Homo sapiens: one gene and its partners. Changing the gene in region 1 together with any one later gene gives a genetic interaction. Each region holds a gene or a part of one and is shown on either strand. Other genes may lie near its edges.

Evidence for each region.
Region 2: changes in COPA (region 1) and AURKA together harm fitness less than expected from each alone (positive genetic interaction), as found in Homo sapiens cells (one large-scale study listed by BioGRID).
Region 3: changes in COPA (region 1) and EIF3C together harm fitness less than expected from each alone (positive genetic interaction), as found in Homo sapiens cells (one large-scale study listed by BioGRID).

What each region holds. Positions count from the first base shown.
Region 1 is NC_000001.11:160,308,669-160,312,320, forward strand, and holds part of COPA (coatomer subunit alpha), read right to left. Parts: intron 3,351-3,652; coding exon 3,200-3,350; intron 1,591-3,199; coding exon 1,524-1,590; intron 509-1,523; coding exon 433-508; intron 1-432. UniProt on the Homo sapiens protein: The coatomer is a cytosolic protein complex that binds to dilysine motifs and reversibly associates with Golgi non-clathrin-coated vesicles, which further mediate biosynthetic protein transport from the ER, via the Golgi up to the trans Golgi network.
Region 2 is NC_000020.11:56,375,073-56,378,724, forward strand, and holds part of AURKA (aurora kinase A), read right to left. Parts: intron 1-3,652. UniProt on the Homo sapiens protein: Mitotic serine/threonine kinase that contributes to the regulation of cell cycle progression.
Region 3 is NC_000016.10:28,714,384-28,718,035, reverse strand, and holds part of EIF3C (eukaryotic translation initiation factor 3 subunit C), read right to left. Parts: coding exon 3,590-3,652; intron 3,401-3,589; coding exon 3,346-3,400; intron 3,218-3,345; coding exon 3,108-3,217; intron 2,730-3,107; coding exon 2,602-2,729; intron 1-2,601. UniProt on the Homo sapiens protein: Component of the eukaryotic translation initiation factor 3 (eIF-3) complex, which is required for several steps in the initiation of protein synthesis.

The DNA of each region.
Region 1 (3,652 bases):
AGCAGCCTCATCTTTTTGACATGCAAAAGGAAGCAAATCGGATCTGGATGTGGATAGGACAGTATAAATCCCTAGTCCCAGGATGAGGCATTATAAGATTGGAACCACATTTTTAAATAAATGAAACTACCAGGGTGAAAGTCATATCAACTGACAATAAACTAGGATAACATGCTGTGCTGAAAGAGAGAATGGAGAGTTTCTAATAACCAAATTATAAAATATATATATCTAGCTGGGGTAATAAAATGGAGGAGGAACATGAATATTTCACACCATGGTCGCCTCTGATGCAATTGTCAGCAGCACCTGCCAACAGACATGAGTGATGTGGCCATGGCTTGGGGATGGAATGTGAAAAACTTGAAGAGGAGTTATGATGCGGGTGAGGAGAGCTGGAAGCAGAGTGGGGTAGACAAAAAGAACACTTACCATCAGGATTCTGGGAGTCAGCATCTTTAGGGATGGTGTACAGGTCATAGGTACTATTCTCTAGATTGCTAGCTCTCTGTAGAAGAAAAGGGGAAATTAAAATGTTAGTGAGAAGCACCCAAGATACCAGTTTTCCAATTTACTCTGACAGAGAAAACAGTTCCATTGCACAGACACCAATCTGAAACCATACTTTTCTTACCCTTCACCCAGAGGGCATTTGACTGTTTCTACATCTATGAGTTATAGGGCTCTTTGCCAAACACATCAGCACTGATGTCACTTTATTTTCTTTATCCTCCAAAGATGCAGATATTATCTGAATGAAAGTAAGAAATGCTCTCTACTCCACAAATTAACAGACTAGGACCCTGATATTCTGGTACCCCACCCTGAGGACTCATCAACTGAGTACTCAACCTCTGGAAAGGAAAAAAAAAAGACATCAAAGAAAAGACACTATAGGAATGCAAATGTTTATTGGAAAAAGAAGAAAAGAAAAAACACTCAAGAAAACTCAGAGTATGGGACTACTAGATATTAAAGAAGAACAGATTAGACAATATAGTTATATGAGGAAAGACATTTAACTTCATTCCTTTTAACTTGGCCACGAGGGCACTAAAATTAGAATGTCATTTCTTTTTTTTTTTTTTTTGCAAATTCTGTTGCAAGAAACAGAGAGGAGTCATTGATGACTCTGAAGCCAACCCCACTGATATGAACTTCCTCTCAAAATAATAGTTCTTCTATTTTCACCCAAAGGAAGGGATCAAGGTAAACATTTTCTTTCCATAGGAAATATATATATATAGTCTAAACATTCTCTCAAATTATTTCTAGTGATCTGGGTCATTCATTCTGATGCTCCATTAAGTTCAGCTTTAGGAAAGATAGGCAGTTCACAAATGCTCAATATGTTTACGACAACTGAAACCTACCTGATTTGAGTCTCTGAGTGATCACTGTGTCAGCTCTCACAAAATGACCATTAAATAGTTTCTAAGAAGCCATTAAAGATTCCCTAAGGGCATAAGAAAGAGACCTATGGAAAATGAGGAGAACCTAGGAGGGCTCCACAGGTTACTTACTGTACAAAGCAGGACTGCATTTTCTGCTGGATTGTATGACATATTGAATACTGGAAACTTGGAACCACTAGAGATATATATAGAAAAAGGAGAAAACAGGGAAGAGGCATAAGAATAGAAGGAAGAAAGGAATCACCCCCACACCTCCTACTTATCCAATCTTTACACTATATACTCATCACTTTTATAATCAGGAATAAAATGAATAAATATTGTATTCTCTTCCTTTAAGGCTTGGCAACTTCCCTAGCTCAGCTTTGAACAAACAGTTTTAAAAAGTAAGCCATAGTAGAAGTCAAATTATTCAACAGAAGGTAGGTAGGGTTAACACTCACTGTAGTGAGTGGGACTGGTTCTGCTTGGATACAAATTCCTACACGTAATTGCAGTGGACACCACAGAGTAACATAATGTGATTTGTCTCTGGCTGGTTTCTCCTGTCCCTTGGAGTATTCACATAAACCCATTTTTTTATTGTAATGATGCTAAAGGGTGGTTATCAAAACCTCATTCCAAATTTTGCCACCATGAATGTTTCAGCATGCTGATGCAGCTGGCTTTTCAAAAGGACAGGTCCTTTTGCCAGGCATCCCAGAGGTTATTGTATCTTCAGAATTAAGAGTTTCCAGGGACATATATTCTGGTTCAGAGTTGTGCACTTTTTGCTGGAAGGCAAGGGAGAGTTAAAGAAAAGAAATGCCAAACAAAGGCGAAAAGTTCTGTTACCAGTTTGGGCCATTCTCTATCAAGAAACTTCCTCTGGCTTGCAAGAGACCCAGCAAATTGTGGCAGAATGATTTTCCATCCACAAGGTCACTAGCATTCTCAAGAAGGGAACTATCATTCTACTCATGACCACTTCCTTGCCTCCCTCACTCATTGGGTTTAAACTGAGCGGGCTCATCTAATGGGGATTCCATCTGTGACAGAATACGAGATCCAAAATGTCATTTAAAAGAAGAGTCTTGGTTGGGTGCGGTGGCTCACGCCTGCAATCCCAGAACTTTGGGAGGCCGAGGTGGGCGGATCACAAGGTCAGGAGTTCGAGGCCAGCCTGACCAACACAGCGAAACCCCGTCTCTACTCAAAATACAAAATTAGCCAGGTGTGGTGGTGCACACCTGTAATCCCAGCTACTTGGGAGACTGAGGCAGGAGAATTGCTTGAACCCAGGAGGTGGAGGTTGCAGTGAGCTGAGGTTGCATCACTGCGCTCCAGCCTGGGTGACAGAGTGAGACTCCATCTCAAAAAAAAAAAATTTAAAAATAAATAAATAGGCTGGGCGCGGTGGCTCACGCCTGTAATCCCAGCACTTTGGGAGGCCAAGCCAGGCAGATCATGAGGTCAGGAGATTGAGACCATCCTGGCTAACATGGTGAAACCGTCTCTACTAAAAAATACAAAAAATTAGCCAGGCGTGGTGGCGGGCGCCTGTAGTCCCAGTACTTGGGAGGCTGAGGCAGGAGAATGGTGTGAACCCGGGAGGCGGAGCTTGCAGTGAGCCGAGATCGCGCCACTGCACTCCAGCCTGGGCGACAAAGCGAGACTCCGTCTCAAAAAAAAATTAAATAAATAAAATAAATAAATGAAAGAAAGAAAAGAAGAGTCTTGTTTGTGGGAGTTGTATCAGGGTGACAGATGAGAGGGTTTGGAGGAAAGAAACAAGTCCGATTTACCTCCGCAACTGCATCACAGCTACATCTTTGGAGCTGTTGAAATCCAGCTGTCGTAAGAATCGGTCCTTGACATAGTGTAGCATATTGCCATGAACAGCATAGGCTGGCCGTTCCCGTTCCAGCTTAAACACAATCATACCACCATCATGGCCTGGGGGACAGGGAGAGGAGGAGAAAAAATTAAGCTGTAGGCAAGAAAAAAACCTGGAAATTGGAGATACGTAAGGATGAAGATTATATCTGTAAGACAAGACACCTGAATGCATCCCTTATTTGCCTAAATTCTCACAATTCTTGGAATCTTTATTTAAATAATTCTCTGTGAATCCTTTCCTAATACTATTCACACTGCCACACTTAGTGTCACTATCCACACTGCCCTTTTCTGTGTTCCCCTAATGCTTTGTACAAACCTCCATTACAGTACTTATCATCCTGCACTGTAATCATTTA
Region 2 (3,652 bases), on another chromosome or scaffold:
TTTTACAGTCCCTATCGCTAAGATTTAGCAAACAAGTCCAGTATGTATGTATTTACTTATTTATTTTTAAGAGACAGGGTCTCACTCTGTCACCCAGCCTGGATTGCTATGGCATGATCATACCTCACTGCAGCCTTGAACTCCTGGCCGTAAGCAATCCTCCCACCTCAGCCTCCTTCCGAGTAGCTGGGACTACAGGTGTGTGCCACCATGCCCAGCTAATTTTTAATCTTTCTTTTTTTTTTTTTTTTTTTTGTAGAGACAGTCTCCCCATGTTGCCTACGCTGGTCGCTAATTCCTGACCTCAAGTGATCCTCCCACCTTGGCCTCTCCAAGTGCTGAGATTACAAGCGTGAGCTACCATGCCTGGCCCAGAATTTATTTTAACATACAGATAACTGTTTGAATATTGAAAAAATATATTTAGCTCTGCCTAAAGTTTGAGAAGAGTTTGCTTTCTACAGCAATTTCTAGACAGGATTGAACATTATTTTACATCAAAAAGGTTTACTAAACAGATGAGTAAAAACCAAATGTCACTGTCAGAATAAACACTTTTCATTCTTTCAGCCCAAAACCGGAGATCAAAATTCAGACCACAATAAACTGAAGGCAAATACAAAGAAAGCTGCTCTTCTGACCACCAACTTTGAGTTGCTGATGCTTTAATTGCACACATTAAAGTTTGAGAGGGCAATGGATTTCACTCCTCAAATCACTTCCAGACAAGAAGCTATTAGTTTCATGATAGCCCTCTGGCACTGCCACTTCCTCCACACCTCACATGTTGTTAGATTGCAGATATGGATAGGTCACTGACATGTCACTACAATTAGTTTTATTTGAATTCATCTGAAAAGGAAAACAGGTACATGTGTATTCATTCTAACTGCTAAGGAATCTAGACAGAAATGATCTTTCATTTTCTTTCAAACAGCTATCTGCTTACACCAAAACTCCATCTAGATTGAAGCCTTGGGTGTAAGGAGAGAAAACAGAGAAGTAGTATAATGTGTAATTTTGTAGTGTTGGTATAAGGTGAATCTTTTAAAGTAGGATATCAATATCAGAAACTGAAGAAAAAGATTAACTGACCTGAAACAACAAACTACAACCCACCATAAGCAAGATTACCAGGAAAAAAACCAAGGGTAAAATGTGAGTACCTGAGGTAGAGTCACTACCATTAATGAGCATAGATTTACTTATTGATCTGTAAGAGAAAGTTGGCCCAAAAGATGAACTCAAAGAAATATTAATTGCCAATTAAATAAGAAGCTGATTTGTTTAGCTAATATTTAAAAAAGCAAATTAGAGATCTATTTCTACTTAGGAGAAGCACAAACATTTAAGATTAAGTCTTTAAAACAGCATGTCATTGTTGCAGAGACAAGACCAAAGAGCCATTTGTCCATAGTAGCATGATTTCATCAGATACTGAAAGTAAAATTACTTGAATTTAAATGCCATTTACATCAATGCCAAAAAGAGAACTAATGTCCACACTACCCGGAGATCTCCACCAAGAAACAGAAAAAAATCAAAGTAACCACCATTCAACATGCTTTATCAAGCTGCCAATCCAATAAGAAACGGCCCAAACTAAGACTCTTCAACTTCTTAAAACAAGTAATTTTAATCACATAAAAAAGGAGAAGCAAAAAAGCACAATCATGAAAGAAAAAACTGACACATTTGGACTTTTATTAAAAATACAGCCTGGGAGGCCGGGTACAGTGGCTCATGCCTGCAATCCCAACACTCTGGGAGGCCGAGGTGGGCAAATCACCTGAGGTCAGGAGTTCAAGACCAGACTGGCCAACATGATGAAACCCTGTCTCTACTAAAAATACAAAAATTAGCTGGGCGTGGTGGCTCATGCCTGTAATCCCAGCTACTCAGGAGGCTGAGGCAGGAGAACTGCTTGAACACAGGAGGTAGAAGTTGCAGTGAGCTGAGAACCAAGATCACGTCACTGCCCTCCAGCCTGGGTGACAAAGCAAGAATGCCTCAAAAAAAACAACCTGGGCAACATGATGAGACCGTGTCTATACAAAAAATACAAAAATTAGCTGGGCGTGGTGGTACCCACCTGTAGTCTCACCTACTCAGGAGGATCACTTGAGCTCAACAGGCAGAGGCTGCAGTGAGCAGAGATCGCACCACTGCACCCCAGCCTGGCTGACAGAGTGAAACCCTTTCTCAAAAAAATAAATAAAAAACAGCCTTGTGAAAGACACAGATAAGAGAACAAAAATACAAGGCACGGATTGGGAGAAAATATTTGCAAAACATGTGTGACAGATGACCTGCATCCAAAATATACAAAGAACTCTTAAAACTCAAAACTCAAAAAAAAAAAGAGCAAAAGATTTCAACAGGTGCCTCAAAGACGATACACAGATGGCAAATAAACACATAAAAAGATGTTCAAGGCCGGGCGCAGTGGCTCACGCCTATAATCCCAGCACTTTGGGAGGCCGAGGCAGGTGGATCACAAGGTCAAGAGATCAAGACCATCCTGGCCAACATGGCGAAACCCCATCTCTACTAAAAGTACAAAAATTAGCTGGGCATGGTGGCACGTGCCTGTAGTCCCAGCTACTCAGGAGTCTGAGGCAGGAGAATCGCTTGAACCCAAGAGGCGGAGGTTGCAGTGAGCCAAAATCGCACCACTACACTCTAGCCTGGTGACAGAGCGAGACTCCGTCTCAAAAAAAAAAAGAGACGTTCAACATCAAATGTCATTAGGAAACTAGAAATCAAAACAATGAGATACCACCACATGCCGATTAGAATAACTAAAATGCAAAACAAGAGGCCAGGTATAGTGGCTCACTCCTGTAATCCCAATATTTTGGGAGGCATGAATTACTTGAGACCAGGATTTCGAAACCGACCTGGGCAACAAGGCAAAACCTTGTCTCTACAAAAAAATACAAAAATTAGCCAGGCACGAGAGCACATGCCTGTAGTCCTAGCTACTTGGGAGGCTGAGATGGGAGGATTGCTTGAGCCAGGGAGTTTGAGGTGGGTGATCATGCCATTGCACTCCAGTCTGGGCGACAGTGAGACCTTGTCTCAAAACAAACAAACAAAAATCCAAAACACTGACATCAAATGTTGGCAACTATGAGAAGCAAGAGGACCTCAATTCATTGGTTCCGATACCACATTACCGTTGTATAATGGTATCAGAATTGTTAACCAGCTGCCCCACGGAAACCAACTTTATCAATTAGAGTGCTTATGTGCACTTCCTTTGGCCTTTGTCTTATAGACTCCACTCATCTCCAAAGCTGCTTGGATCAACACTTTACCCTCATGCCCTTTAGTAAGGTGATTTCCTACATTTGTAATGCAATGTAAAATATAATGTAAAAATCACTTTGGAAGACTGACAGTTCCTCACAAAGCAAAATATAGTCTTACCGTATGAGCTGGCAATAGCACTCCTATATATGTGCCCAACTAATTTGAAGACTTGTTTCGCAAAAACCTGCATGCAAATGTTGACAGCCAAAACATGATAACTGCCAAAAACCAGAAGCAGCCAAGATACCCTTCAGTAGACGAATAAACTGAGGTACTTCCATATAATGAAATAATGGAATATGATTTTGTGATAAACAGAAATGAACAAGCTCTCATG
Region 3 (3,652 bases), on another chromosome or scaffold:
GCTGAAGTGCAATGGCGCGATCTCGGCACACTGCAACCTCCGCCTCCCGGGTTCAAGCAATTCTCCTGCCTTAGCCTCATGAGTAGCTGGGACTACAGGCGCAGGCCACCACACCGGGCTAATTTTTTTGTATTTTTAGTAGAGATGGGGTTTCGCCATGTTGGCCAGGCTGGTCTCGAACTCCTGACCTTGTGATTTGCCTGCCTCCGCCTCCCAAAGTGCTGGGATTACAGGCGTGAGCCACCACGCCCAGCCAAGAAACACTCTTAATCATACAGCATGGCAGAGTTAAAAATAAAAGGACAGGAAACGTCCTTTTCATAAACATCCTTTATCAGGTAGAGGGAAGCTCCCTTCTATTCCTAGCTTCAGTCTTTTATCATGAAAGAATATTAGGATTTTTTTCAAATGCTTTTTTTTGCATCTGCTGAGATGACTCTACGGCTTTTGTCTGTTATTCTATTGATATAGTATATTAGTTGATTTTCATATTAAAACATCCTTCTATTATTGGGATAAATCCTCCTTGTTATTAAATTTTTTTTTAAAACTTTTTTGGGAGATGAGCCCACCCATCCTCCATCCCCCTACAGGCAAGGAGGGGGTGCTCCCATATAATCCTTATTGTATGTTGCTGTGTTTGGTTTTCTACTATGTTGTTAAGAACTTTTGAGTCTGTATTTATAAAAGTATAGCTTTATAGTCTTAGAGTTTTTTTTGTTTTGTTTCGTTTTCTGAGACAGAGTCTTGCTCTGTCGCCCAGACTGGAGTGCAGTGGCACGATCTCGGCTCACTGCAACCTCTGCCTCCCAGTTCAAGCGATTCTCCTGCCTCAGCTTTCCGAGTAGCTGGGACTACAGGCGCCTGCCACCATGTCTGGCTAATTTTTTGTATTTTTAGTAGAGACTGGGTTTCACTGTGTTAGCCAGGATGGTCTCGATCTCCTGACTTCGTGATCTGCCCGCCTCGGCCTCCCAAAGTGCTGGGATTACAGGCGTAAGCCACCGTGCCCAGCCTTGATGTCTTAAGTTTAATTTTAGGCCCCATTTGCTCCCTCAGACAGGAGCCTTTGTGTAACACACATGTGCAGTGCACATCACACACCGGAGTCCACACAATGGGAGACTTCAATACACAATTATTCAAAGACAAAAACACAAAGTACAGTAGATATAAAAGACCTGAACCAATAGTAACGCTGATAGTTCTGTAAGATGTCAACAGGTTAAAAAAACGAGTTTCATGATCAAGCAAGTTTTTGAGATGGTTAATAAAACAAAGTTAGGTATATTTATTCTCATGGAACTTTCCAGAGGTGGTTGTAAACCCTCCAAGAAGGGGTGTGATAGACAATGTGGCCCAGACCTTGACCAGTGTTCCCTGAAGCACTGGACAAAAAAGGCCTTCTCAACAAAATGCCCACCAAGTAAGTTGTTCAGCCTCTCTAGACCTCTAGAGGGCTGGAAACTCACTACCTCCCTAAAGCAGCACGACCACAACTTTTAAACACAGGAAAGCAACCTTGAGAGCAATAATCTTCCCATTAAAAGGGTACTATTTGTCTGGGTGCAGTGGCTCACGCCTATAACCCCAGCACTTTGGGAGGCTGAGGCGGGAGGATCGCTTAAGCCCAGGAGTTCAAGATCAGCATGGGTAACATGGTGAAATCTTGTCTGTATTAAAAACACAAGAATTAGCCGGATGTACTGGAGTGTACCTGTAGTCCCAGCTACCCAGGAGCCTGAGGTGGGAAGATCACCTGAGCCCAAGAGGTTGTGGTTGCAGTGAGCCAAGATTGCATCACTACACTCCAGCCTGGGAAGAGTGAGACCCTGTCTCAAAAAAAGCACTTTTTATCTGTAGTTTGTGCAAACTGGCTAAGAAAAAATAAATAAAAGCACTATTTTTAGTGAGCTTGAGATTTCACTCCCATGGGATACAAAAGAGCAGGTATCACTTTTACTTCAAAGGGAGAAACTAAGACTTAAGGTCAAGTAACTTATACAATGTTGTACAGCTGATAAAGGCTGGGAGACAGAATCCACACTGGGATCCTCCCCTATTCTGACTGTCCCAGTAAAGGTCATGAACACTTGCGGCAGTCTGTATGCTGTATGTGTACTAAGAAGTTATCAGGAAGGGTAACACAGTAGCAACGCACACTGAGGGCTCACCACACGTCAGTCCTAGATGAACTACTTTCTTACATCACACCTCCCTGTATTCCTGCAGCTATTCTGGAAGGGAGGGTTCCCTGCCTTATTTTACAGATGAGAAAACTGAAGATTAGACAGGCTAAGTAGTTTGTCCAATGTCACACAGGTATCGGGTGCCAAAGTGAGATTTGCACCCAATCCACACGCAGTGAGTAAGGCTGTGGGTAAATATTTGGACTCTGGAGCCTTCAATTCTCATCTTTAGGACACATTAGCTTCGTGACTTTAGCCAACTAATGTACTTGACTCTCTGATCCTACTGTAAAATGCTAACAGTTGGCTGCTCCAACCTAAAAGGACTCCATGGAAGAATCAATAACCTTCCAGACAATTAAGAGCTTTCCACCAGTTCCAGTGTAACCCTAGGTCCCACTACTTTCCTTACTTTTTAAGAAATCTTGAGGCCAGCGCGGTTTGTTTCCCTTCTTCCTCCTCTGAGTCGGAATCGGAAGATGTGGAACCTGTGTCCCAGTCTTCATCATCTTCGGAATCTTCTGAGTCCTCATCTTCATCCTTAGAGGGAAGAAAAGAGGATCAGCAAGAAGACAGGGAGATTGACTGGTGTCTCCTCCTTACTAACGCATGTTCGAGATTTATTTACATGAGTAGAACAAGAGCAGCTACTCATGGAATCAAGATACCAAGGGCTGGGACTCACCATCAAGTCCCAGAGTGATGCTGCAATTTGGCCGCAGGAACACACACAGCTTCCCCTGGCAGAGCTGGGCCCAGATCCCTGTTTGCCCACTGCTCTGATGTAAGAGGAAGCTTGTTCTCAACTCCACTAAATTCCACCCCTCCCAACCCTAGGGGTTTGAGTCTTGTCTTTTTCCCCCAGGGACTCAGGAACTACCTCTGGCAGGAAATCATCCATCTAACCCTGGCTCTTACATCCATCTTTTTGAGGAACTTGCGACTCTCCCCAGAAGGAGCTTCTGATTTCTTCTTCAAGAAAGTTGCAGCACTGACTCCGTCCTCATCCTCATCCTCATCTGAAGAGCCTAGTGGTAATGGAGGGAGAAAAAGATCCTGAATGTTGAAAAGCCAGACTGGAGGGCAGCCAAGAAACCAGGCGAAGGGCAACACTAACTCTGGACTTCCTATTTGCAACAAAGGTTCTTTGGCTCACCTTCTGAATCCTCCTCATTTTTCTCAGCATCTTCATCCGCAGACTGCTCGGGGTTCTGGACAGAGAGGGAAGTGAGAGAACAATCATGGACGCTGTCCAGCCATCAGCCCACCCCACCCCTCCACCCCAGACAGTTCTGTCATCTTCCTGCTCCAGTCACACCTCCCACTAGCAATTCCATCTTTGGGCCTCAGTCACGGGGTCACTGTTCCCAGTTCAGTAAGTGTGCCTCTAGCCTCCCCACCTGCTTGTAGCTTGTGATATGGGACTCGAAATCACGGTTGTATTTTCGGATCTTCTGACGCAA